Regions from separate parts of the Homo sapiens genome. Here region 2 is linked to region 1. Evidence: fine-mapped expression QTL. A gene starts in region 1. The other region holds a variant in brackets. All regions are shown on one strand. Distances are from middle to middle. Region 1 holds the start of ELK4 (ETS transcription factor ELK4). Region 2 overlaps SLC60A1 (solute carrier family 60 member 1).

Region 1 (16,814 bases):
TGTACACTGCAGTTTGTCTAACAGCATACCCGGCCTCTACCCACTAGATGCCAGTAGCACCGCCTGCCCCATTGAGACCATCAAAAATATCTCCAGACACTGCCAAATATTCCCCCAGGGGTCAAAGTCATCCCGGTAGATAACCATTGGTTTAGGCAAAGGAGCAGCAAGGAATGCTCTCTCATAAAGGTATTTTCCTCATACAATTTCAAAACACCTTTCTATTAGGAAGAATTCTTTAGGGCAGAAACTCTGGCCAAATCCGTATAAGTGTGTCCTAAGAATCTTATGATTGAATACTTCACACACACAAAAAAAAACAAAAACAAAAAACCTTCCTTTCTCTAGTAATGAGATCTCAATGGGTTAGAATAGAGTTTGAAAACAAATTATATCAATACCATTAAAACACTACAAGAACAGATCAAAACTGGACTACAACAAAATTTAAAATTGTTGTGCTGCAAATAATGCCATCAAGTGAGAAGACAATCCCCCAAATGGGAGAATATTTTCAAACCATGTATCACAAAGGGAGCCTGCATCCAAAATATATTAAAAAACGCCTACGACTAAAAAAAAAAAAGCAAAGAATTTGAAAAGACATCATAGCAAAGAAGATATACAAATAGCCAATAAACACACGAAAAAATGCTCTACATTGGCTGAATCTGCCTACTTGTCGCCACTATCACTGCCACCCACCTCCCGGCTCCCCCAGGTTCCTTCAGCCCAGCCTAGTTCAGCCGGGTTCCCAACAGGATGAAATTCGTGTACAAAGAAGAGCATCCGTTCAAGAAACGGGCGGCTCCGAGAGCAAGAAGACTGGAAAGAAATACCCGGACCGGGTGCCGGTGATAGTAGAAAAGGCTCCCAAAGCTCGGATAGGAGACCTGGACCAAAAGAAATACCTGGTGCCTTCTGATCTCACAGCTGGTCAGTTCTGCTGCTGCTGCTTCTTTTTTTTTTTTTTTGTGAGATGGAGTCCCACTCTGTCACCCAGGCTGGAGTGCAGTGGCGCAATCTGGGCTCACTGCAACCTCCGCCTCCTGGGTTCAAGCGATTCTCCTGTCTCAGCCTCCCGAGTAGCTGGGATTATAGGTGCATGCCACCACGCCCAGCTAATTTTTGTATTTTTAGTAGAGGTGGGGTTTCACCATGTTGGTCAGGCTGGTCTTGAACTCCTGACCTCATGATCCGCCTGCCTTGGCCTCCCAAAATGCTGGGATTACAGGCATAAGCCACTGCGCCCGGCCCAGTTCTACTTCTTGATCCAGAAGCGAATTCATCTCCGAGCTGAGGATGCCTTGTTTTTCTTTGTCAACAATGTCATTCTGCCCACCAGTGCCACAATGGGTCAGCTCTACCAGGAACACCATGAAGACTTCTTTCTCTACGTTGCCTACAGTGACCAAAGTGTCTACAGTCTGTGATGCTGCTACCCCTGAGCTGGAAGGGGGGTCTCATTCTACAGAGAGGTGGCCTCCCTTTCTTGACCTCCTCCTCCAAGCTCAAACACCACCTCCCTTATTCAGGACCGGCACTTCTTAATGTTTGAGGCTTTCTTTCCAGCCTCTCTTAGGAGGGGTAATGGTGGAGTTGGCATCTCGTACCTCTCCTTTCTCCTTTCTTCCCCTTTCTCTGCCCGCCTTTCCCATTCTGCTTTAGACTTCTTGATTGTCAGTCTCTGTCACATCCAGTGATTGTTTCAGTTTCTGTTCCCTTTCTGACTGCCCAAGGGGCTCAGAACCCCAGCAATCCCTTCCTTTTACTACCTTTTTGGGGGGTAGTTGGAAGGGACTGAAATTGCAAGGGGAAGGTAGGAGGCACATCAATAAAGAAGAAACCACCAAAAAAAAAATGCTCTACATAATTAGTTATTAGGGAACTAAAAATCAAAACCATCTGAGAAACCACTTCATGCCTACTTGGAAGGCTATAATCAAGACAGACAGACAATAACAAATATTGGCAAGGATGCAGAGAAATTGAAGCCCTTGTACATTGCTGGTGGGAATGTAAAATGGTGTAGCCACTTTGGACAAGTTTAATACATGACTCAACAATTCTACTCCTAGGTATATACCCAAAAGAAATGAAAACATACATCCATACAAAAACTTACACAGGACTGTTCATAGCAGAATTATTCATAACATCTAAAAAGTAGAAACAAACTAAATGTCCGTCAACTGATGAATGGATAAATAATATGTGGCACATTCATAATGGGGTATCATCCAGCCACAGAAAGGAATGAGGTACACACACACACAAGGACAAACCTTGAAAACATTATGCAAGTGACTAATAGAAGCCAGTCCACAAAAGACCACATATTGTATGTTTCCACTTATATGAAATGTCCAGAATAGGAAAATCCAGACACAGAAAATAGATTAGTAATTATTTAGGACTGGGGGCTAAAATGCGGGGAAGAGAAGTGGGGAATGATAGAAAATGGGTACAGGGTTTCTTTTGGGGGTGATGAAAATATTATAAACTTAGGCAGGGCGCAGTGGCTCACGCCTGTAATCCCAGCACTTTGGGAGGCCGAGGTGGGCTGATCACAAGGTCAGAAGATCGAGACCATCCTGTCTAACACAGTGAAACCCCGTCTCCACTAAAAATACAAAAAATTAGCTGGGCGTGGTGGTGGGCGCCTGTAGTCCCAGCTACTCAGGAGGCTGAGGGAGGAGAATGGCGTGAACCTGGGAGGCAGAGTTTGCAGTGAGCTGAGATTGCGCCACTGCACTCCAGCCTGGGTGACAGAGCGAGACTCCGCCTCAAAAAAAAAAAAGAAAAGAAAATATTATAAACTTAGATTGTGTTCATGCTTGCACAAAACCCACAGCATATTACACCTAAGGAGGTGAATTTTATGGTATGTGAATTATATCTCAATAAAGATTTTTAAAACAAACAACACAACAAACACTATAAAAGTTAGGTCTGGGAAGACTAATTCTAACAACATTTAACTCACAGAAGATGGGATTCTTAAGGGTCAACTATACCTACTTCCAAAAAGGGCAGAGATAAGAAACTGTAGTGGAAAATAGTTGGGTTTCTATAACTTTTCTGAAACACTCAAAATGTCCTCCAGTAATCCTCACGATTATCACTTTGAAGCTGGTTGTACAGAGACAGTCACCTAAAAGTAACGATGGGAAAATAATAAAGGATAGAAAGGGAGAGATGCTGCCCACAGTCAGAATTCATGGAAAAGCTGAGGCCATGAGTCCCAAGTCTCTTTCATCACAGTCATGTACTCTGTCCATTAGGGAAACCACTTTCCAAATAAATAAAAGCACTCATATCGCTAATTGATTGTAAAAAAGCATTACATATTAGATACCGATAATAATCCACAAATATGAAGTGCTACCTTAATGCCAAATAACCATGCCCGCTAGAAATCGGTTCCCCATAGCCTCACTTAAGCGGGGCTAAAATAGCGGTTTTATACTACGGCCATTAAGTATGGTGGAAGCAGGCAGGGATTCCCTGTTATGTCTCTTGAGTTTACCTGACAGGCCTTTCTTCTGATGATGCCTAATGATGGCAAGTTACCGTTCTACTACAGTTTTCCCACTTAAACAATTATTTCTAATCTAATCCTGTTAAAACTACTCTCTAGTAAATGTTATCTTAAGCCAAGAACTCAATTTCCACATTTCCAGACATCACCTTCATATAAGACTGCTTATAGGGGTGGAGTATGAATCCATTCGTGAGATGATGAAGGAAAGACAGAGAATGGGAGTCTCTAGCCTACACAGATGTGGTGCCTATTATTCCATTTGTTTTTGAAAAAATTCCAACACCCGGATCCTAGAGTCTTAATACCTATTATGTAGATAACATTTCAGCCCTACAAGTTTAAAGCCTCAGCTATACATCTAAAGACAAAAACAACAAATTAACGTCTCCATAATGAGCACCCAAGGAGACTCCCCAAAATAACAGGTGTTCCCCAGATGGTACAGGTTTAACTTGCACCTTCCCTGTTGGTTATCAGTGGAGCAGCATGTATTTAGTCAAACACTGGTGAGCTGTTGGCTGCTTTAAGGTAGAACCGAGCTGTTGTGGAAAATGCTGATGCTTATTTAGCAACTACAGTGTGTCTACGATAGAAGGTTGAGGACAGTAAAAAAAAAAAAATGGCTTTGGCCGGGTGCAGTGGCTCACGCCTATAATCCCAACACTTTGGGAGGCCGAGGCAAGTAGATCACGAGGTCAGGAGATGGAGACCATCCTGGCTAACAAGGTGAAACCCCCGTGTCTATTAAAAATACAAACAATTAGCCAGGCGTGGTGGCGGGTGCCTGTAGTCCCAGCTACTCGGCAGGCTGAGGCAGAATGGCGTGAACCCGAGAGGCGGAGCTTGCAGTGAGCCGAGATCGTGCCACTGCACTCCAGCCTGGGCAACAGAGCAAGACTACGTCTCAAAAAAAAAAAAAAAAAAGAAAAGAAAAAAATGGCTTTGAGGTTTTAGACTGAAGTATTAGAAATGAATTTTGAGAAAAAGATATAAAGTGGACATTTTCACTGGGTACTTTAAAGGAATATTTTATTAATTCAATTATGATATCGTTATTCTTTTGATTGAAAAGCAGCCAACGTCTTCTTACATAGTTAAGTCAAAACTCTTCATTTTAGTTTCAAAAAGTGTGGTATTAACAATGATCTTCAATGATTTCATCAGATATAAAAGAGAGCTGGCCGGGCACAGTGGCATACGCCTACCATCCCAGCACTTTGGGAGACCAAATCGCTTGAGGTCAGGGGTTCTAGACCAGCCTGGCCAACATGGTGAAACCCCGTTTCTATTAAAAATACAAAAATTACCTGGGCGTGGTGGTGGGCACCTGTAATTCCAGCTACTAGGGAGGCTGAGGCAGAAGAATCATTTGAACCCAGGAGGCGGAGGTCACAGTGAGCTGAAATCACACCACTGCACTCCATCCTGGGCGACAGAGCAAGACCCTGTCTCAAAAAATAAATAAATAAAATAAAAGCTAAAGAAAAAAAATCCCCTAAGACAGTTATTAAAAATTATGTGGTTGCTTCATGCCTGTAATCCCAGCACTTTGGGAGGCCAAGGGGGGAGCTTGAGCTCAGGAGTTCACGACTGGCCTAGGCAACATGTTGAAACCCTGTCTTTACCAAAAATACAAAAAATTAGCCGGGTATGGTAGTGCGTGACTACTCGGGAGGCTGAGGTGGGAGAATGGCCGGGAGATGGAGGTTGCAGTGAGCAGACACCACATCACTGCACTCCAGCCTGGGCAACAGAGTGAGACCTTGTCTCTAACAAAAACAAAAACACAACAAAACAAAACCAAACAAAACCTTTTATTCTTGTTACCTATCAAAAAAAAAAAAGAGGCTAATTACTTGATTTTCCTTCTTACAGGAATCCCGAGTTTTCCACAATTGCAATTTTTAAAGTTTAAAGTTATAACAAAGGAAGAAAACACTTAACTGGTCCAAATGAAGGTATTTGATTTTTGAGGGGGTAAAGGCTGAAAACATAATTGATTCTATTTTAACACTTCAAAGATAGACCAATCCCTGTCCTAAATTGAAAGGGAGCATGTTGAAGTAATGTATTAAGGAAAGGAAGTCTCTATTAAATAAAACCTTTTCCACCCTAAACATGTTTATAATACACACAGTCCAGTTGCTGTGGTGACCCATAGCCCAACTATTTTTCAGAGACAGTAGCTAAGACCCAAAAAAACACAAAGTCTCCAAATTTTCTTCAGCCTGCTACTTAAAAAACCAAGTTATGAATGTATCAAGCCTAGTTTCGAATCAAAATACTCACCGTTGTCAAAAAGTAACCAAAAGTAACATGACGTTTTTAACTACACAGGCTCCTAAAAAATACTCTTTGTATAGGATCCTGCACAGTTCTTACAATATTCTTACAATAAAACTTAAAGACACTACCTCACTAGGAATGAACAGATTCCACTTACGCAGTTTTAATGTTTAAGTAAAATCAAAGAGAAGAGTGTTCCTGAAGGGAAAATATTGAATCATACTACATTTTAATGAAAACACCGCTGCCAAACCTAAATATTGAAGCACCAAGTTTTCCAAGCCAGGGGGTGTAGGGGGTGGGAAAAGACGACAGAGGATCTGATCTATCAACCAAAGAGATGGACAAACCATTCTGATGAGGCATAGAACTCCAGAATCTTTATTTAAATTCCCCAAATTTCAAATAGCAATAGCTGGAGAAAAAGTGAAGTGTGTACTTTTGACTACTTCAGTCAACAACATCCCTATTTCCTTCCAAGGCCAGTTACTATCCCGCCCCGAAAGATGTTTCCAATTGATCTTCCCAGGAATGAAGTTACCAGCCTCGATGCAGCTGTGCACAAGGCGGAAAGTAAAGAGGGGCGGGGGGCCGCTGGAGCGAAAGAGAAAAAGAAATGAAACTCGACACCGGATGACTAGCGAGCTAGGGGAGAGGAAGAAACGCGGACGGCCGCGTGTGCCCTACAGGAGATCAAAGTCTGGGGGAAGAGGTGCAACCTCACCGGGCCTTGGTAAGCACTGAATTACTGTACTTTCATTTTCCAACTTCCTGTCACTACAGAAAATGAGAATTGCTCCCCTCCTCCCCATCCACGCCGAAAAAATCGCCGCCACCTTTCGCCCACGAGACTTCGGGGGACCAAGAGGCGACGAGAGCTGAGCGGTGCGCTGCGGCGTCCACCTGTGCGCCGCGGTGCCCGGCGGGCCGGGGGCGGACCCAAGGGGAGCGCGCGCGCCCGGCCCCGGCCCCCGCCCCCACTTCCTGTTGTGCCGCGCGCCCCTCGGCCCCCGCCCCCGCTCCCGGCCGGTGGGGCTGTGGCCGCGAGATCCCGAGGGGGCGCGCGGGGCTGACCGCTCACCGACGCCGCGCGCGGGGCTCCCCCTCGGTCTCCGCCTCGAACACGATGCGCCTCTCCGCCCTCAGCCTCCTCCTCACGCTGGAAACTCGAGGACGGCGCGGCAGCCGCTGCGACCCCCGCGGCGGAGCCGTAGAAGGCGGCGGCGGCCAAGCCGAGCCCGCCGGGTGCCCGCAGCCGCCCGCATCTCCCGCCGCCGCGGCTCCTGGCGCCCCGCCCTCCCCGCCCCCGCACGCGGCAGCGGCGGCGCGGGTCTTGGGGCCGCTACACGCCGGGCGCGCGCGTTCGGGGCGTTCCTTGCAGCGGCGGGGCCTGCCAGGCCCTCCGCGGCCGCCGCCACTCTCAAACCCCCCGACTGCTCCTGGGTCCCTCCCAGACGCCGTAGTCGCTACACGTCACTTCCGGGGGAGGGGCTGCGACCCTAAGGGGTGTCGTGAGCCGCGTCTGCCAGCAAACCCGGGTTTGGTGTGGCCGGGGGATGTAGCTCGGGCGCCTCCTGGAGTCGTCTCGCCGCTCTCCGTCGCGTTCGGTGCGGTTGCTTCCAGGTCCCTGAGGCGCCCGTCCGGAACCCGCCAGGACCCAAGCTGCCGCCTGGGCCGGGACCTCGGACTCCTCAAAGGCGCGCCACTTTCTCCTCGGTTGGAGGGAAGAGGTGGCGCTCGCAGAGCAACCTGCGGGGGACCACTTCTGTTGGTGCTAAGCTTTGGGGAGAGTCTCCTCCCTCCTGTGTCCCTCGTCCTCCTTACCACTCGCTGTTAGAAGTTGGGGCCGTCACAGCTTTCTCATCGAAGTGCCAGATCCCAGGACACTACAAACGCTTGATAAATACTAAATTAGCACTGTGGCTTTCTAGCCTGGGGACTGACAAATGGAAGCGCTGGAGTCGTGGGAAAAGCTTGCCCTGACGATGGAGGCAGCGACCAGAAATCCATTCGTGGCTCTACCCCTCACTAACTCACCAATTTTAAGCAACCTTAACCTCTCTAAAACAGTCATCATTTATAAGGTGGAGAGAACCCAATCTTAGAGTTGTTGTAATGATTAAAGAAAATAAGGTGCATGAAACACCTAGCAAGAGTTTCTAGCTTAGAGGTTCTCATTAAGTAAAATTCTTAAGGAATCAGGTCACACTTGATACAAGAGGCTACTTGAGCAGTTTAGCACCAGAAGGAATGTAAAGTCATAAATTAGGACAGCTGAACAAAACCTCCAAGAAATAAATTAGGTGTTTGTTTAACAAGAAACCAAAGAGAGGTCAGTGTCTGAGTTACTGGTTATTCGAGGCCATTTACTAGCTGTGTGACCTGTAGTGAGTTGCTTAACCTTTCTGGACCTCAGTTTCCTCATGTAAAATGACGATAATGAGCAGCATTGCTGAGAGGATTAAATGAAGTATAGAGCATAATGTACTTAGTGCATTACCTAGCACATAGTAGATACCCAGTAAATCGTGGTGTCATTTATTTTTGCCCCCACAATTGAATGTATAGTTAATTGAACTCACTGAGTGAAATGTGATTCTGTCATCCTTTTGTAGGCTTTTGGAAGAGAATCATCACTTCCTTGATTTCCAGCCTCCTCTTCCATAATACAGAGTAATTATAATCCACAAAGGTAGCTATTCCTGTAAAAACAACTCTACCAAAAGATGTTACCTTTCCAAAATTAGTTTTACCAAAGCATGCAAACATATTAAGACATGTTTTATAAGGAACATGCAGTATCTGAAAAGCACTAGCAGTCTTGGCCCCTAACATAAAATTTTCCTTGCAACAAGTTCCATCTTGGAAACCAAGAAAAAAAAAAGTATTAAGGTAGGCTGTTTAGGATACACCTATTGGAAACATTTGTTTATAAAAAGATTTCATTTTAAAGCCCCCTACCAAGAACAGTTAAGGGTTGTGGAGATCTGCACACTACGCTGCTCTGTTCAAACTGGCAGTAAACATCTGATTCGGCCTTAGGGCCAGTAGTTGTGTCATATCCCTTTTAGACTGAGCTTACGGCATTGTCAATTGCAGTGTATTTTTGGAAAACAGCCTGCTTTGGGAGTTCTTAAATTAGTCATAGCAAATCTGTCTGCTTTTAAATTGACTTTTTTTTAAGGCGGTACATATTGACAGAAGAGAAAGGAAGAAAAGTGGATTTCTAATTAGAGAACTTGAGGGGAAAAGTTAATTAATGTGCCTGGTTTTCCCACTCAAGATTCTATAAATACACAATCTCTCTCCATGGTTCCTCACACAACAGATGGTTCTGTTTGTGCAAACTCCATGGTAGTTACGTTGGTCAACCAAAAAGACTGCTTTTTCGTTATCTTGTTTGGTCACTTTCCCACCAGATAGATGGATTCCTGATCTTAGCCTTAGTTACTCAGAGCCATCCCAAAGAAAATTTGTAGATTTTATTACAATGTTTATTTATTTTTTTGAGACAGAGTTTCGCTCTTCTTGCCCAGGCTGGAGTGCAATGGCGCAATCTCGGCTCACCGCAACCTCCGCCTCCCGGGTTCAAGCGAGCCTCCTTCCTCAGCCTCCCAAGTAGGTGGGATTACAGGCATGCGCCACCATGCCCGGCTAAATTTTTTTGTATTTTTAGTAGAAATGGAGTTTCTCCGTGTTGGTCAGGCTGGTCTCGAACTCCTGACCTCAGGTGATCCGCCCGCCTCGGCCTCCCAAAGTGCTGGGATTACAGGCGTGACCCATCACGCCTGGCTTAAAATGTTTAAATATGTATTTTCTACCTGGCCTGCCCTAGATTTTGTTTTTTGTTTTTTGTTTTTTGTTTTTTTTTTTGAGACAGAATCTCACACAGTCACCCATGCTAGAGTTACAGTGGCACAATCTCGGCTCACTGCAACCTCCGCTTCCCGGGTTCAAGCGATTCTTCTGCCTCAGCCTCCTGAGTAGCTGGGACTATAAGTGTGCACCACCACGCCCAGCTAATTTTGGTATTTTTAGTAGAGACGGGGTTTCACCGTGTTGGCCAGGCTGGTCTCAAACTCCTAACCTCGTGATCCGCCTGCCTTGGCCTCCCAAAGTGTTGGGATTACAGATGTGAGCCACCGGGCCTGGCCTAGATTTTTTTTCTTAATCACTGCAGTTAACTCAGCTCTGCAACCCCTTGCCCCTAATTTAATTACATTTCCTATCCCAATAACACCTAGTTATGATCATTACTTCTCAAGGCAACTTCCTCTTCCCTCTCTTTATTTCACTGCTTCATCATTACTCCCAGTCACTATCCCTTTTTCCTAAAGAAGTGTTTCACGGATTTTTGACTGACTAAGCAAGCATGGAGCCATCCAGTTGCCTGTTACGTCTTTCAAGCAATATCCTGTAGCACGTGACATTAAGAAGAGATATCTTTTAAGTCAAAGACAGCACCCACAACCCCAGGTGGGGACAAGTGTGGAGCAAATTGCAACATGACTGAGAAGAAAGAATAAAAATCTGGGATATCTGGGTTCTAGCCTTTGGGTCTCCCTAAACTCAAAACTTGAACCTCCTGAGAAAATCCTTGCGACTTACCCTTTCTGGGTTTCACTTTCAACATCTTTAGAAATAAAAGAGACATACCTTTCACTTCATGTCTGTAATGGATAGACTAAAAGAAAAAGGCAGTAGGCTGGTTGTGGTGGCTCACACCTGTAATCCCAGCACTTTGGGGGGCTGAGGCAGGTAGATCACCTGAGGTCAGGAGTTCAAGACCAGCCTGGCCAACATGGTGAAACCCCATCTCTGTTAAAATACCAAAAAAATTAGCCAGGTGTGGTGGCAGGCACCTGTAATCCCAGCTACTCAGGAGGCTGAGGCAGGAGAATGGCTTGAACCCGGGAGGTGAGGGTTTCAGTGAGCTGATACCGTGCCACTGCACTCCAGCCTGGGTGACAGGAGCGAAACTGCGTCTCAAAAAAAAAAAAAAAAAAAAAGCGGTTGATCAAATGATGCTTTGAACTCTTGGTAAATAGCCCTATTGCTGTTATATTTGTGTGGACTGAGATCTTAGATAGAGGTAAAGTTATCTTTGAAAAGAAAACTCTGGCTAGCTGTATATTGAATCTGGCAGCACTGGCAACCCCTACTACCTGTTAAGGTCCTAAACTTTACCAAATATAACCAGTAAACGTTTCATCCCCAATAATAAGGCTTTTAATCAGAGGGTATTAAGGGTCCGGAGAAAACCCAATCTGAAGGTCATTGAACAAGGTACTTGTGGCCTCTAGACTGTGAAGTAAACTCATGGCAACATCTTTCAGGACTAGCTGTAATCTCCACACAATACATTGTTTTTTCAGAGAGGACATGACGAGACATGAGTTATTGCAATTACCGCCTGAGGCATAGCAACTGTCTAATATGTTTGATGACCTGTCACAAACACAGGTCAGAAAATAGCTTCATATAATTTTCATTCTTGATCTCTACACCCAGTCTACTTATTTTCTTTTAATATTTTTAACCTCAAGTAATTTTATTGGTCTTTGATAAATGTATTATTTCTAGACTTATAAAAATTGATATGGAATATGTAATAGAGAAAGAAGAGAGAATATATCAATTTTTTTTTGAGACAAAATCTCACTCTGTCACCCAGGCTGGAGTGCAGTGATGGGATCTCGACTTACTGCAACCTCTGCCTGCCGGGTTCAAGCGATTCTCCTGCCTCAGGCACCTGAGTAGCTGGGATTACAGGCGTGTGCCACCATGCCTTGCTAATCTTTGTGTATTTAGTAGAGACGGGGTTTCGCCATGTTGGCCAGGCTGGTCTCAAACTCCTGACCTCAGGTGATCTGCCCACCTTGACCTCCCAAAGTGTTGGGATTACAGGCGTGAGCCACCTTTGGAAAAGGTGTTCCTTAATTGATAAAAGCTCATGAAATCTGCCTTTTGTATAATTGTTTAAGATTCTGGTGTTTGGACCAGCTCCTTGCAGAATACATATTGCTCTGAATTTTAAGCCAAAATAATTTTTCCTCTCTGGTGTATTTTATAATCACTGTCTGGAAAAAAAACTTCTTCAATTAAAGTTAATTAAGGAAGCACCAATATATGATACTATGCTGTTATTACAGAAGAAACTCAAAGAGCATTTGCTCTTCTAGGAATTCTGAGTCTTGAATTGGCAACACTGACACCCTCAGCGACCATCATTGCTGTCCACGACTTCCAGCATTTTCAGAATTCTTTTGCTATCCCGTTGACATGAACAAAGAATTCAGCTAAGGATTCAGAAATGATGGGAGAGGCAGTCAGGCTGACAAACGAAGATATAAGTGCAGCTCTGAGCAGGGTTTTGTGTTGTGAGGGAAGTAAAATGAGGGTTTGGAGAGAGTAAAATTACCACCTCCCACTGCATTAAAGAACATTTCCTGGAAAGGGTGGAGTTTGAAAGACTTGGTGCTAATTCAAAAAGATGGAATGCCATCTTTTTTTTTTCCTTGCTTTATATATCCAGCAGCAAAACAAAATTGTTCTGCTGTGCTAGAAAATTTGGCTTGTGAGTCGTGTACACAACTCAGGAGTGTGACACAGCTACCAGCTTTCCTCCTAACTCTCAAGGGAAGAAAATTCAAGTTCTGTCTAGGCTCACTCTGTAAAGTGGGAAACTTGCTGGTTTTGTAGGCTTTTTTTCCCCTTCTTTCCCTCTCTCAGCTTCTCCCTGCTTCTCAGAAGATGGAGTTGTGATGCCTGCAACTTACCAAATTTATCTATGAATCAGATTCCAGTGGGAGACCCCTAAAGCAGAGGGAGAATAAGGAGTTCTCCCCATGATGGAAAATATCCAAAGACAAGGTTTCATGGAGCAAAGAATTCTGGCTAGATTTGGTTTGTAAGTGGATCCCTCCCCACTGTGTGTACACTTTATCTGTCTCTTTGCTTCTTCCCCACCCTCTTTCCCAGCTCTCTCTCTGTCTCTCTCTTGTTCCCTGACCCTTTTTTCTTCCTATGCATACTTTTTTCTTTCCCTTTTTAATCTCTATATCTTAATCCTACCAATGGCCCTCTGAGAATTTATTAGCCATGATAGGGATTCTTAGGCCTGAGATTTCTTATCAAAAAATATTTTTAAAGCATTAACCGTGTGCTGAGCTCTGTGCTGGATACTTTAGGAGATTCAAAAATAAGACCAGTCTCTTCTCTTCAGAAGTTTCCAGTAGATAAAGGGGTAACATCACTATAATATAGGAAAGAGTATTTAGTGGAGGTAAAAACTACGAATGTTGAGAGTGTTGAGAGTAGGGAGGAGAAGATCAGGAGAATCTTCGTGTTCCCACCAGAGAACCAACCTGACCACTCCAGGGTATGGTATTCAGGCATTTGGCCTGAAATGTCTTCTTCTTTACTCTCTCCCATCTGACTGTCTCCTACTTTAGGGCTCAGCTTAGATGTCCCCGATTCCAGGAAGTCCCCTAACACCCTAAACTAGGTTTGGGACTTTCCAGTGTCTCCCATCATGTCCAGTACTGGTCCTTGCAGCACTCTCCACACTGACTTGAAGTTTCTTACTTGTCTCTTCAAGTGTTGGAAATGAGTTCTGGAGAAGAGAGCCCAGGTTGTTTACCTTTGCAGCACAGTTGCAGAATAATCCCTGCCCCAGGAGTGGCTCAGTAAAGGTTTATTGAAGAGATCATCCAGGAAAAGGGAATGGCATGGCAGAGCTCAGAGGCACAAACTGCCTGGCATAGAGATTTGCAGCGTGGCTTGCGCTGGAGTCCGTTTCGTCTGCCTCTCCACGGCCTTTGCTTCACCCACTACTGCCTCTCTTACGTTCGGCCTCTCACCTCCCTCTCCTTCTGCTAGTAAACATGCTCAAGTCCCACCCATTTAGAAAACTTCCCCCTTCAAGTATTAGCCTTTCCTTCTCTTTAGTATCAAACTTCAAAAAATAATGGTTTCTATCTCCTGCCTACCCATCCTCACCTTCTGCTTACTCTTCAGCCCGCTGAATCTGTCTGCTGTCTCCACCACTGACTTTTCCGTAGTAAAGGCTACAGCTATCCTGATTGCCAAATCTCACATTCCCTTTTCAGGAACTGTCCCGTTCGCCATCTTCGGCTGTTCCTCAAGACCAGTTTAGATGTTGCCTCCTTAGGTACACATCCCTGACCTCCAGAGCAGACTTAGCTGTCCCTTCCTGGCACCCTCTCGGAAACACTCTCTTCTCTTGGCCTCTGTGATTCTTCTATCTCCCTAACCAGTTTTTGTCTCTCTTTTGGGACTTCTCTTCTACCAGCTCTGAAAGAAAGTTCTGTCCTTGCTTCAGGTTTCTATCTTCGGCCTGTTGTCCTTCAACACACTCCCCATAAGGGACCCCATTCTCTCCAAGCCTTCGTTCATCACCCAGATGCTAATGAGCCCTAACCTTTATCCTGTCTTCTGTGAACTCTGGATCCGTTTCCAGTGTCCTACAGGATTTCTCCACCTGAATGTCCTCATGACACTTCCATCTCAGAATATACAACTTGAACTCATTACTTATACCTGCCACACCAAACCCTTTCCCAGTTTCAGTTGATCCCCTTTCCCAGTTTCAGTTGAAAGCGTTACCCAGACACCTCAGTCATCCTCAACAATTCCTTCTGCCTCACCCTCCACAGACAATTGGTCACCATGGCCTGATGCATGTACCTCTAGAATATCTCACATTAATCTGTTCCTCATGCCTGTCCCCAAGGCTCTCATCATCATCTCTCTCTCTTTTTTTTTTTTGTTGAGACAGAGTCTTGCTTTTTTTGCCCAGGCTGGAGTGCAGTGGTGCTATCCTGGCTCACTGCAACCTCCGCCTCCCAGGTTCAAGTGAGTCTCATGCCTCAGCCTCCAAGTAGCTGGGATTACAGGTGTGTGCCACCACTCCCAGCTAATTTTTGCTTTTTTTTTTTTTTTGGTAGAGACAGGGTTTCACCATGTTGGCCAGGCTGGTCTTGAACTCCTGGCCTCAAGCAATTTACCCACCTTAGCTTCCCAAAGTGTTGGGATTACAGGTGTCAGCCACCGTGCCCAGCCTGTCATCATCTCTTGCTAGGACTATTGCAGTAGCCTTCTAATTTGTCTCCCAATAACAAGGCAATCCAGCCCATCCTCCACATTGCCACATGGAAAATTTCTGAAGTACACATTTGATTGTGTCACTCAGCTGTTTTAAGAGTAGCCAGTGATTGATTTCTCTGCTGCTTCCAGGATCAAGTTCAAACTGTAACCTGAAAGACCTGTAAGCAGCAAAGTTTAAAGGCCATATCACCTTCCACTGTTCCCTACTTTCACCTTTCACTGTCTAGCTCTTTTTAAGCCTAATCCCCTCCTTCATAAACTATATCCCCTGCAAACACATAAAGCATTTTCAGGACTCCAGCCTTTTGTTTATATAGTGCTCTCAGCCTGGATTGTCTCCTCTATCCGATGAGATTCTGAAAAACTAAATGCTGTGTCAGTCATCTCTGTATATCCAATGGGTCCTTGCCCAATGCCTGGCATAAAATAGGGACTTAGTAAATTTTGAATGATTAATTCCCACTTCAAGGAAGACTCAGCTCTCAAATGTTATTTCTTCCCTGCTTCCCCTGACCACCTCCCACCTCTACCCCATTAGATGTGATTGTTCTTCCTGTGGGAATGTTCCTATTTATTTAACAAATATTTTGTGAGTTCCTGCCATACACCAGGCACTGTGCTAAGAAAGAGGAATATAAGATGCTTTCAGGGCCAGGCACAATGGCTCATGCTGGTAATCCCAACACTTTGGGAGGCCGAGGTGGGCAGATCAGTTGAGCCCAGGAGTTTGAGACCAGCCTGGGCAACATGGCAAAACCCCCTTTCTATTAAATACAAAACTTAGCTGGGCATGGTGGCATGTGACCGTAGTCCCAGCTACTTGAGAGGCTGAGGTAAGAGGATCACCTGAGCTCAGGAGGTAGAGGCTGCAGTGAGCTATGATAGTACCACTGCACTCCAGCCTGGGTGACAGAGTGAGACCCTGACTCAAAAAAAAAAAAAAAAAGAGAACAACAAGACATTTTCAGTTAAGGGTAATAGACTGATAAGTAATCATTTATAGCACTGTATGAATTTGACTTCTCTAGGAAACTCATATAAGTGGAATCATTAGTATTTGTCTTTTTGTGACTGGTTTATTTTACTTGGCATAAATGTCCTCAAGGTCCATCCATGTTATAGCAGGTGTCAGAATTTCCTGATTAATACTAGAGACTCACTTTTATAGCATACCTGTTTGTTTTGCCTAATTTTTTTTTTAATAGAGTCTCACTCTGTCGCCCCGGCTGGTGTGCAGTGGCACGATCTCAGCTCACTGCAACCTCTGCCTCCTGGGCTCAAGCAATTCATCTACCTCAGCCTCCCAAGTCGCTGGGATTACAGGTGCCCACCACTGCGCCCAGCTAATTTTTGTATTTTCAGTGGAGACGGGGTTTCGCCATGTTGGCCAAGCTGGTCTTGAACTCCTGACCTCAGGTGATCCGCCTGCCTCGGCCTCCCAAAGTGCTAGGATTACAGGCATGAGCCACTGCACCCAGCCTGTTCTGCCTAATTTTTTTTAAACCATGCATTAATGATGAAATAGTCACCGCTTTCATGACAGCTTTCCTTGCTCTCCAAACTGTGTATTATTACCATCTCTTCTGTATTCTAGGAGAGGAGGAAGAGAGGTGTATATGCCTCTTTATAGCCTGTGTAACATTCTGTTTTGTATTACAGCCATGTTTGTACTTGGGATGGGGACCTTAGCATCTCTTGTTGAACAGAGCGCTTTATACACAACAGACCAACACGTTTGGTTGGATGAATGGTCATATTCAACCTCTTCAGATGCCACTATTCATGGCAATTGACCATTGTCCACAGCCTCATATCAGAGAATCTCAAGGTTAAAAGGTGCTTAAAAATAATGTAG
Region 2 (12,105 bases), 27 kb before region 1:
GACAGACACATTCCCCAAGCCCTAGACAGCAGTCTCAGGAAACTGCCTCCACCAACTGTTCGCCAGAACTAGGGGGTCTGACTTTTCACTTTGCTCCCTCTAGAGCCACAGAATGGCAGAGAAACAAACAGCCTGGGTAAGCTCTCAGAATGAATCATCACTGCAACTCATCAGAGCTGCTGAAACATGCTACCTGTTTTGTTTTTCTTTTGTAGTTCCTACCCAAGACAGATCAATTGGAATGGAAAACTCTGAGTGCTACCAGAGGTAAAACTGGGTGAAGAAGGCAAGAGAAGACTTTCAGCCTCTTGATCACCAGCACGACCATACTGTTTCAGAAAGCTGGGTGGTGGTGGAGGCGCTCTCTCAATGGCTATTCAAGTCTTCTCCACTAAAACTTGGTTGGGTAGAGGAAATTAAATTGAGTCCTGGTACCTGGTCAAAATCATTAGAAGTTTACCTGGCTTCTCAAGTTATCTTCTTCCCTGGTTCAGACTGTTGGTAAGAGCTGTCCAGATACCCAGATGGGAAGGAAGGAGACAGCCGCGCGCTTCACTCCATTTGTCACCTCATGCATGGACCATACTCTGGGTTTGAGATCATTCTTCATTGAAGTTTGTAAAAATAGGTTGAAATTGTAAAGCTCCATGATCATTGCTATATGTAGATATATTTCAATTTAAGCAAAACAAGCTGCAAGTTATTCCCTGGCATGCTCAAAGGATTTTCGTGCTTTTCACTTAATAGTCCAAAGTCTCTTAAATTCCTGCTGCAGACATCAATAGCTTATCTATATTCTCAAACACCAAAAGGAAAAGTTGAATCTTGCTCTCTTTGGTATACTAATGTAGTGGTATGCTAAGCTGGCTCATACCAACTTAGAAAAGCTGATTGTAAAATTTTCATTTTGACAGCTGGTTATTAAATGCAGCCATTATTAAAAATCAAATCATACAAACTTATAATTAAATCAATTACATTTAAAACAAAGGTAATAAATATTCAAAGCATATCACTTCCTAATTTGATCTTGATGCTCTTGAGGTAATTTACGTCCATGGTACCTGTGTGGTGGAATTACTATATATGATGGTGTGCTACTGTGCACCTTGTCTCAACTCCACTCTTCGTGATAGCATGTTGGTAGCTTGAAATCAGCCTGGTGGGAGTATTACCATGGACACTGGCAAAAGCTACAGATCCCGGAGAGCCAGTGGTTAAACATTTACCAGCATACCACTGCTAGTAATCAAGGCTAACTGGTCCAGAAATCGCCCAGGAGAATGAAATGGATGTTCCATTTTTTTCTACTGACATTGACTAGCATATAAAAGGTATAGAAACAGCACTAAGACTTTCTGAAAATACCTAATGAAAATTTTACATCTTTTTTTGTTTTTGTTTTTGTTTTTGAGACAGAGTCTCACTCTGTTGCCAGGCTGGAATGCAGTGGCGTCATCTCGGCTCACTGCAACCTCCGCCTCCCAGTTTCAAGCGATTCTCCTGCCTCAGCCTCCCAAGTAGCTGTGACTACAGGCGCATGCCATCACGCACAGCTAATTTTTTGTATTTTTAGTAGAGACGGGATTTCACCGTGTTAGCCAGGATGGTCTTGATCTCCTGACCTCATGATCTGCCCGTCTCGGCCTCCCAAAGTGCTGGGATTACAGGCGTGAGCCACTGCACCCAGCCAAAAATTTTACATCTTTTATAGAGGGAAAAAAACTCTTTATACCATGGCAAGGCCTTTTCTTTCACAAAAAGCTGGGCCTACTGAACAATTCAAGCTGTGCAGTAGTAGACTGAAAGCAGGATTTGTTGAGGAGTTACAGCTCCTGTCCAGAGCAAATCCTGTAGTGATACAAGGAGAATGTAAACTTGCCAGCTTAGACAGGGATCAGTCCTGAGACTGCTGGCAGTAGCAAATGGCTATTAGAGTAACTGTATAATGGTTTTGCCTGCACTTTCTCTATGTATATACAAATGTACATGTATAAATATAAAAATTAAGTGATCATGGTTCTTGGTAACCTGTCCCAAGTGCTGTGATTCACACGCCTGACACTAAAAGGTTCTTCCTGGTCCAGTCAGCCAGCTGTGACCACCAGCAGCACAGCTGAGTGCTGAGAATCTGGCTGGAAAGAGAAACGTGGCTCAAGTGCTGGCTCACCTTCTAGCTGTGTGGCCCTGGGCAGGTTACTGAGGCTCTTCCAACCTCACTTTTCACATGTAAAATGGCATTTCTAAAAGTACCTACCCTACCTCAAAGGAATTCTGAAAAAAGTAAGTGAATTTGTATAAAGCAAAGCACTCACAATATGCCTGACACACAAACTGCTTAATAAATGTTAGTAATTTTTAAAACCTCCTCATAAGCGGCTTAGAAATTATTCATGTTTGGTACATATTTATTGCAAGTCAAGCAGATCCAACTTTTTTGAAAGCTGGTGGTCTAGGAGTATAGTTTTAATTATATTTGTAAATACTCAAAAGTATTAGATGCCAGTCTAATTTAAATGCAGTCTGACTGTAGCGAGTAACTGACCTGGGCAATGAAAAAGCAGTTGTATTTTTCTTGTGGTTTTTCAAGAAAATATCCTTTTTATACAGATTTAGAAAGAAGAATCAATGGCTATATCGAAGTTGATTGTGACTAATTTGTTAATACAGAAAACAACATTAACACAAATCTAAGAGTACCTTTCCTAAAATAAAATATTTAAACTTATTAAGTGTGTTATCCATTATGAAGAACAATTGATCCTCTTGCATACACTCAGAAACAAATGGTCTGATGTTCCCCAGAGGCAGGTCTCTCTCATACTAATAAGTTAATGTGGCTTATATTTTAGAAGAAAGAAAACTGTCTCACAAGGGAAACTCTGAATTTTTTTAAAAAAAGATAAATAAATAAATAAATAAATAACCTCTCATAGCAGGGCTAAGTGCCACTATTCCCTATTACATAAAATCAGAATAAGGAATAAGGAAAAGGCAGGTCGATTCTTACACCACACGCTTCTCAGTTACACAAGTAGGACTTTCTTCCTCATCTTCCTTTCAGGAATTTGGACATTTCAGAATCCTGTGGAATCACCCTGTTCCCAGATTTTCCTCTGCTACTTGTATATGGAAATCTAACCCATCAGGCACATCGGATTCACTAAAAGAAGACACAGTGACATAGAGTTCTTTTAGAGTGAATTTCGTTTATTCAGTCAAAAAGGATTTGTTAAGCACCTGCTATGTTCAAGGCACTAATCTAGGTACAGACATACAGTGGTGACTGAGACAGAAGTCCCTGCCTCACAAGGATTATACCGCAGGTGAAGACATACAGACAGCAAACAAATACTACACGTAACATGCCACAGGGTGAGGGGTAATGTAGCACCATAGAGAAACATACATACAGGGAATATGGAATAGGATATGGGAATGCCACAGGGTGAGGGGTAATGTAGCACCATAAAGAAACATACAGGGAGTATGGAATGGGAATAGGGAATGTCAAGAGATGCTCTAGGGCCAGGCACAGTGGCTCACACCTGTAATCCCAACACTTTGGGAGGCTGAGGCAGGCGGATCACCTGAGATCAGGAGTTCAAGACCAGCCTGGCCAACATGGCAAAATCCTGTCTCTACTAAAAATACAAAATTTAGCTGGGCCTGGTGGTGCACACCTGTAATCTGTAATCCCAGCTACTGGGGAGGCTGAGGTGGGAGAATTGCTTGAACCTGGGAGGTGGAGGTTACAGTAAGCTGAGATTGTGCCACTGCACTCCAGCCTGGGTGACAGGGTGAGGCTCTGTCTCAAAAAAAAAAAAAAAAAAAAAAAAGATGCTCTGGAAGGCGTTTCTAAGGAGGTCCTATTTGTGTAGAAAACTAAATGATACGTGGGACCAAGCTATCCAAGTACGTGAAAACATCCCATCAGGCAGGGGGCACAGCAAGTACAAGAGCCTTAGGCTGGAATATGCTTATGGTATTGGAGGAACAGCAAGTAGGCTGGTGTGGCTCAACTGCAGTGAGGAAGAGTCAAACGGAACAAGTGGGAGTGGTTGCTAGAGGCCAGATCATACAAGCCATGGTATGTGTAGAGGTTTTTTGGAGTGATGTAAGATGACTGGAAGAGTTGTGAGCAGGCAAGCGACACGATCTGATTTACATATCTAAAGTATCACTGGTTACTATGGAAAAGAGACTATGGGGCAAGCATGGAATTGGGAAGACCACCTGGGTACCACTGCAATAGACTGAAGAAATAATGGTGGCTTGGAAATGTAGATAGCAACGGAAGTGGTGAAAGTGATTGGATTCAAGCAATATTTTGAAGGTGAAACTGACAATTTGCTGATGGATTGGGTGTAGTGTGAGAAAGATAAGAATCAAGGATGGGCCGGGAACGGTGGCTCACGCCTGTAATCCCAGCACTTTGGGAGGCCAAGGCAGATGGATCACCTGAGGTCAGGAGTTCGAGACCAGACTGGCTAACATGGCAAAACCCTGTCTCTACTAAAAATACAAAAATTAGCTGGGTGTGGTGGCAGGTGCCTGTAATCCCAACTACTCGGGAGGCTGAGGCAGGAGAATCGGTTGAACCTGGGAGGCAGAGGTTGCAGTGAAGTGAGATCACGCCACTGCACACCAGCCTGGGTGACAAGAGTGAAACTCCGTCTCAAAAAAACAAACAAAAAAGAATCAACGATGACCTGAAGGAATCTGACCTAAGTAACTGGGTACATGATGAAGCCATTTAACTCTGGAAGGCCATGGGGAGACATTCTGAGTTCTATTTTGGACATGATCATCTTATGATGCAATCTTGGATGTCAAGAAGGCTGTTAGATATAGAAGTCTAGAGTTTAAAAGAGAAGTCAAAGCTGAAGATACAAATTTTGTGGTCACATAAAGAAGTATTTAAAGTCATAGGACTAAAATGACACAAGCTAGGGAATGAATGTAGAGATGGACAGATTGAGCCCTGGGATTCTTCAACATCTAGAGTTTTAGAAAAAGAACAAGTCCCAGCAGCGCACATGAGAAAAGCCAGAGAAATAGGAAGTTCAGGAGAAAATGTGGTTTCCTGGAGGGCACATGAAGTGCATCTCAAGAAGGAGTTAAGTAATCAGTGCTGCCAAGAGGTCCAATGAACACCGAATGTCAACCACCAGATGTGGCAACATGTAAGGCAATATGACCTTGACCAAAGAAGATAGTTTTGGTTAATTATGGTGACATATTCAAAACATATGGTGGTGGCTCATGCCTGTAATCTCAGTGCTTTGGGAAGCCAAGGTGGGAGGATCATTTGAGCCCTGAAGTTTGAGGCTGCAGTGAGCCATGACTGTGCCACTGCACTTCAGACTGGGTGACAGCACGGTTGACCCCAAAACAAAACAAAAAACATGGGAACCATCCAATGGACTCCTTAACACCAATGCTTGTCAGCTGACTGGCACAGCTGTTTGAGTTTGCGCTTTTTTTTTTTTTTTTGAGACGGAGTTTCACTCTCATTGCCCAGGCTGGAGTGCAATGGCGTGATCTTGGCTCACTGCAACCTCCGCCTCCCGGGTTCAAGCGATTCTCCTGTTTCAGCCTCCCTAGTAGCTGGGATTACAGGCACGCGCCACCACACCCAGCTAATTTTGTATTTTTAGTAGAGACAGGGTTTCACCTGTTGGTCAGGCTAGTCTCTAACTCCTGACCTCCGGTGATCTACCTGCCTCAGCCTCCTAAAGTGCTGGGATTACAGGCGTGAGCCACTGCGCCCGGCCCACTCCTGTTTCATTTAATAAAATGAAGTCACTTTCATAGACTCCCTGCAGTTACAGGGGGTCGGTCGTCCAGTTAGTACAGTGTTTTGTAGCAACAATCAATGTGAAATCATCTAACTGTTAATTATTATCTCCTACCTGATAATGCCAACCCTGGAAAATTACCCAATATTAGGGTATTAGTTTGTCATTAAACGCACCTATAAAACACAGAAAGTGCTTGCAAAACAGGTAGGCTTCTCAAAATAAGTGTCAACAGTCAGAAAGGTTAGAAAACGGTGGTGACTTAAACAGGCTTTTTTTTGTTTGAGATGGAGTCTCGCTCTATCGCCCAGGCTGGAGTGCAGTGCCATGATCTCAGCTCACTGCAAGCTCCACCTCCTGGGTTCACGCCATTCTCCTGCCTCAGCCTCCCAAGCAGCTGGGACTCCAGGCGCCC[G/A]CCACCACGCCCAGCTAATTTTTTGTATTTTTAGTAGAGACGGGGTTTCACCGTGTTAGCCAGGATGGTCTCGATCTCCTGATCTCGTGATCCACCTGCCTCGGCCTCCCAAAGTGCTGGGATTACAGGCATAAGCCACCACGCCCAGCCTAAACAGGCTTTTTAACTGAAGGACTTGGCACTTTTCATATTCTGAAATTTCCTTTTGAATTTCCGTGAAGAACCCATTTCCCAAACTGATTTTACCTCGTGGGACTACCGTCGCAGTTGATACTCTGAGAGCAGTGTGTTAGGAGCATGCAGTAGTCCTCACTGTGCTCCACATGCTGACTGACCCACCAACCAAAGTGACATTTCACCCATTTCACCAGGGTAGTGAACTGCCCCCTTTGCCCCAGAACAATCTGTCACTCTATCCTCCTGTGATTTTCATTAAGAGATACGAAAACAGCTCTCTGCTGTCATTTTGCCACCTATAAACCCCACTTTTGGGCTGGTTACAGTGGCTCATGCCTGTAATCCCAGCACTTTGCGAGGCCAAAGCGGGCGGACCACCTGAGGTCAGGAGTTCCAGACCAGCCTGACCAACACGGAGAAAACCCGTCTCTACTAAAAATACAAAATTAGCCGGGTGTGGTGGCGCATGCCTGTAATCCCAGCTACTCGGGAGGCTGAGGCAGGAGAATCGCTTCAACCCAGGAGGCAGAGGTCGCAGTGAGCCGAGATCGCACCATTGCACTCCAGCCTGGGCAACAAGAGCAAAACTCTGTCTCAAAACAAAACAACCCACTTTCCCTTATGTATATTATTTTGACCCAATTCTAAAAAAGCCTAATTTCATTTGCTAAGTGAAGTCTACATTGCTTTTTACAAGGGCTAGATAAAAGCCTCTGATTTTTTTTTCTTTTTTTTTGAGATAGGATCTTGCTCTGTCACCCATGATCACACCAGTGCAGTGGTGTGATCTCAGCTCACTGCAACCTCTGCCTCCCGGATTCAAGCGATTCTTCTGCTTCAGCCTCCCGAGTAGCTGGGACTACAGGCACACCCCACCACGTCCAGCTAATTTTGGGAGGATTTTTAGTAGAAACAGGGTTTCACCATGTTGGCCAGGCTGGTCTCAAACTCCTGACCTCAGGTGATCCACCTGCCTTGGCTTCCCAAAGTGCTGGCATTACAGGTGTGAGCCACTGCACCCAGCTGATTAAATTTTTAAAAACCCTTTATTTTTCAAGTAAAACAAAAAGAGATTTCACATGGTGAATATTTTTTCTAGCCACTCAGTTCTCTCTTAATTCCTTTTATGTCAACAATCATTTTACAATCTCCCCTGTTCACCACCTATCTGAATCTAGACTTTAAATATTTTAATGTAGATACATATCAAATTGTTGAAGGCCAGATTTTAATGATAGCCATTGGGAAAACAACTCTTTCCTGACCCACAGTTAGCATGGATGAAAATGTAATACAGAGACTGTAAAGAGACCACCTCAATGAATGTGAGAGAAGGGAATAAATAATCAATTCAGAAAATCATTTTGTTAAAAATATTTATTTAAAAAAATACAACTGCTGTCCATATCTAGTTGCACATATATCTATTAACATATATGTATACTTTTAGACTTGTAGTAAATTTGCTACAGTGCTTTTGTAAAGCCAGCCTGCATTATACAAAGCAAATTCCTCTGTCAGTTCTTACATAAAATAGATTTTTAAAAATGTATATCTTTCCTAAAAGATGCATATCACCATTATAGAATTTAACAAAATTTTTGCATAAAACCTGGGAAGTGATAGAAAAAATGATCACCTGATTGGTCAGAGCAACCCCTTACTATGTCTGGAGATGCACTGAGTATCAACTACACATTTTTTTTTTCAAGCAGCATATTATTATAAAGCCCTCAAAGTGCTTTTGCATCCTTTCGCTCACCTCTCTACACTCTATAAAGTTTCTCTGCCGTATACAGATAGAATTCAAGACTCTAGCTACAATCATCCTAATCAATCTTAGAGCAATATCCCTTTGTTTCCCAACAGGTAAGTCAGACTGCTTAGCTAGGAGATGTGGCAGCTTCCCTCCAGCTGTTTCATCAACTAACATGAAGTTTAATAAATGTTAGCAGTGACCATTTTAATTGCTTTTTTAGGAAAAAGAAAAAAAAAAGGTGCTTTTAATACTTTGAAGGTGCTTTTTAGGTCTCCCTAATGTAAATTATGCTGAAATCAACTAAGACGAGCTATTATTAACACTTTAACAGTTATCCATTCCTCTGGGTAGGTGTGCACTTACATTATATGTAAGTATCTCTACAAAGTGTTAGATACTGGATATGAGATACAGATTTCAATAAAACAAGGGAAAAAATAAGCAATGAAGTAACTGTCTTCTCAGTTGAGCTGACAGGTTTGAAGAAAGCACTCTTGACATGTTCTTACTACCACATATCCCAAACTAAGACATACACATAAAATAACATATCTCTCCTGTGTTAACACTGATGGAGACGCACTGCAATAGTCCCATGGCAGACATATGCTTTTCTTCTGAATTACAGATTGGCTTAATGAAAATTAAGAGTTTATTATTAAGCATCTTTTAATTTTTAAGTGATGTTCATACTTGACGGTTCAGAAACTGCCACTGCCACTGTGGTTAAATCACTTGGTGTATGGAATTTAAAATAATCTAACCTAGAGCTATTTCCCATTAATCAAACTCATCCCTAATTGTCTCTTAGGAAGGTCTTCTTTAAAGAAGATCGAGTAGGGCTCATGAAAAATTATTGGTTTGTTCTTCAAAATGCAAAGTTACATACCCTTATTTTTTAGCCAATTTGATTATTTGGTAAAGCAAGGGCATAATTTTAAGAAACTAATTTTAATCAAAAATTTTTACTTGCCTCAAACTAAAGCTAACCAGTAGCAAAATGACTGGACTGAATTTCATATTTAATCTTCCCTGCCCACAAAGATAAATGAAACTGCTCAAAGGCAAAAATAAAGAAATATAATTGTGATTAGAAAAGATCCAGGGCCAAAACAAATAAATAGGCCTCAAGGAATAAAAAATTAATTGTATTCGTTTCTTTTCTATCTTTACATATACGCATCTGTCAATTTCACTAATACTGAACAGGGAAGTTCATAAAAATGCTACTCTACCACTTAAACAATAAATGTAAGCAATGAATGTACATACAAAGGCCACTGGTTAATACTGCCCCAAGTAACAAAACAATGAAATGTCAGGATTGTGTCCCCTACACAATAGACAATAAGCAACAATGACCAAACAGAAAAGAAACTTAAAATTGGATACTTTATAAATTTAAGTGTAATCTATCAATTGCAAATTATTTTTAAAAATCGTAAATTTCTACAAAGCACAATATTAAAAGCTTGCAAATTATTTTAAAATATCCTAGCCAAAAGGGCATACCTTACAGAGCCTAGAAGAATGGCTCATTAGGTAACCCATTTATCCCTTCTACAAACACCCTATAAATTCCAGAAAACATAAACAAGAAATAAACCTTACTTCTCTGACCCTCAATATCCTTAAGTTGAAATTAAACAAACAAAATAATCATTAAGTGCTTCCAGTTATTAAAAATGAAACAGTGCTAATATTGGTGCCCAAGAAAGTGCCAAGTGATTAACACCAATATATGGCATTCCCACCCCTGAACTTTAGGCATTCTTGAATGATTCCATTGGCTAGAACTCTGGGCCAGCCACAGGAAACCCCCACCTCCTCCCCGACCCCATCCAGAAGATCCCAGGCCTATGTGAGCATGACTCACAATCCTTGGAAGGGAAAAGAACCAGAAGGAGCCTTTATGAGATGGGAAACAAGGCAAAGTTGAGAAGATCATTCAGCCCAAGACACTCCACTCTGAGGTTTTGGCTAATACTAATGACATACAGTTTAAAAGGATAAATTAGGCCACAATACCAGCATTCCTCCACTACTGTATTCAATCCATGGTCGAATCTCTGTACTTTAGAAATACTGCTTCCAGTATAAACCTCCTCTTTGAGAAACTTACAAACTAATAAAGATTTTACACAAAAGCAAACATAAATGTAGAAATTTTAAGAAAGGACATCCTTATTTGCTCAATAATACATGAACCTAAGAGAACAGTTTACTATGACTTTGTTTAGAGTATGTCACATGTAAGCAGTGTATTTCTAAAATGTTGGTGAGCAATTCATCTTTAAGGCCTACTGAAATGTGCAAAGCATTAATCTTTTAAAAAGTGGCAACTGCAAAGTGCAGCAAATTTTTTTAAGTTTTAGTATAAAATAGACTAGGAGCCATCAATGTATGTTCCCTATGAAAACAGATTTACACGCGCACACACACACACACACACATTCAGTCAATACATCAGTATATATGCATACACATACATTTACTAGGACAATAAATCAGAATGACTTGGAAAAAGAAATGGTCTAGTCTCCCAATTAAATATTTCAAAGTAAAGTTTTCAACCTCATAAAACTTCCTGATGTGGACTATACTCAAATGATTAGCACTCAAGAGATTAACTATGTTTGATTGTATCCCTCATGAATTTTCTTGTTAAAAGTTTCCTTTAAAATTATGTCAACAACAGCATGAATTTCCTGTTTTCTGTAGAAAGCTTAGAGCCAGTATTTCCCCTCTCATACAAACCACTCTGGATTTTCATATTTCACAATAAGTAAGTGTGGATGGCAGCACCTTAGAAATTGCTATTTTCTGGCAGGCTATCAATCTATCATAATTTTTTTCAGAGAAGTGACTTGAAGAAACTGACAGTTTCAAATGAAACAATTATACTACCATTAACGATTCACCTTTCAGATTTGCTCGGCTTACAGGTCAAAACATGACTTGTATAGTAACAGGTTCCACCAAGTACAAGAAATAAAATCAAACCACCTTCTTTTCTTAATACACGACCAACCACAAGAATTCTAGATCCTAAGATTAAACTTCAACTTCAGTAAGCAGAGTTCTGATGACATAAGAGGAATAACAGGGCACTTTGTTTCAGGCAATGCCAGCAACATTAAAACAATAACAAAACATTTGTTGATCCCAAACCAAGAATATAATTCTATTTTCCACAGAACCCAGTCTCTGGTTAGAGTACCTGCTGAAGAAAGACAACTATGGCTGACCTCCACACTTCACTTACACTACTATGGACTGAACAATTAACTTCTCAATACTATTTTAGAAATAATATATTCTATCATAGCTTCAGATGACACACTACATCATGAGTAGTATTTTAACTTTCCTATTGGTTTGGTAATTCATTTAGAGCCCCAGATTTCTGCACAGAGACCTGCATTGGTCTCCAAACTTGTTTTCATACCTAAGAATGGCACCTAAGCACGATTCTAGACTCCTGGCACGGGTAAATAAAACATATACAGTCAATGAGGTTAAAAACAGAACAGACCTATAAAGAAAAGTATTCCTTTAGTTGCTGAAATATCAGATTTTAAAAATCAAAAACTTATTAATGCAGCAAGAAAATGTAACTTGTTATATATTTTAACATAAAGCAACTTGAAATAATTCTAAATTTGTTGGTAAAATATAACATAAGTCCCAAAGAAGTCTGTGAGCAGACTAGTAAAATAAAAATAGAGTCATACCTAACATGAAGATAAGAGACAACAGGCTGACGAAAGTAATAGGAATAAAGCTGTGGAAAACATGTGGTAATGGATTATTATTTGGGAATTTATCAAAAAGAATTAATGTGAAATTTCAAAAGTTGACAATAAGCTCTCCTGAAAAACTCCAAATCTCTAGGATTTCTCCATATATCATAAGAGAGCATCATATATGTTTGGAGATTAGAATGAGAATAT

What was found.
Region 2: its variant is fine-mapped to the expression of ELK4 in tibial nerve (GTEx, PIP 0.93).

What each region holds. Positions count from the first base shown.
Region 1 is chr1:205,624,721-205,641,534 of GRCh38, forward strand. It overlaps ELK4 (ETS transcription factor ELK4), which reads right to left and starts at 7,291. Exons shown (of 5, transcript NM_001973.4): 1 at 6,912-7,291. It also overlaps the pseudogene LOC100420878. RefSeq lists enhancers at 4,066-4,335, 6,339-6,758, 7,369-7,678 and silencers at 6,769-6,958, 7,049-7,198.
Region 2 is chr1:205,600,191-205,612,295 of GRCh38, forward strand. SLC60A1 (solute carrier family 60 member 1) reads left to right here. Exons shown (of 10, transcript NM_181644.5): 10 at 216-2,728. The coding sequence ends at 271. It overlaps ELK4 (ETS transcription factor ELK4), which reads right to left. Exons shown (of 5, transcript NM_001973.4): 5 at 7,753-12,105. Among named protein-coding and RNA genes, the nearest start is that of ELK4, 26 kb to the right of the region's middle. RefSeq lists an enhancer at 1-974. The variant G/A (reference allele first, on the strand shown) is at 6,217.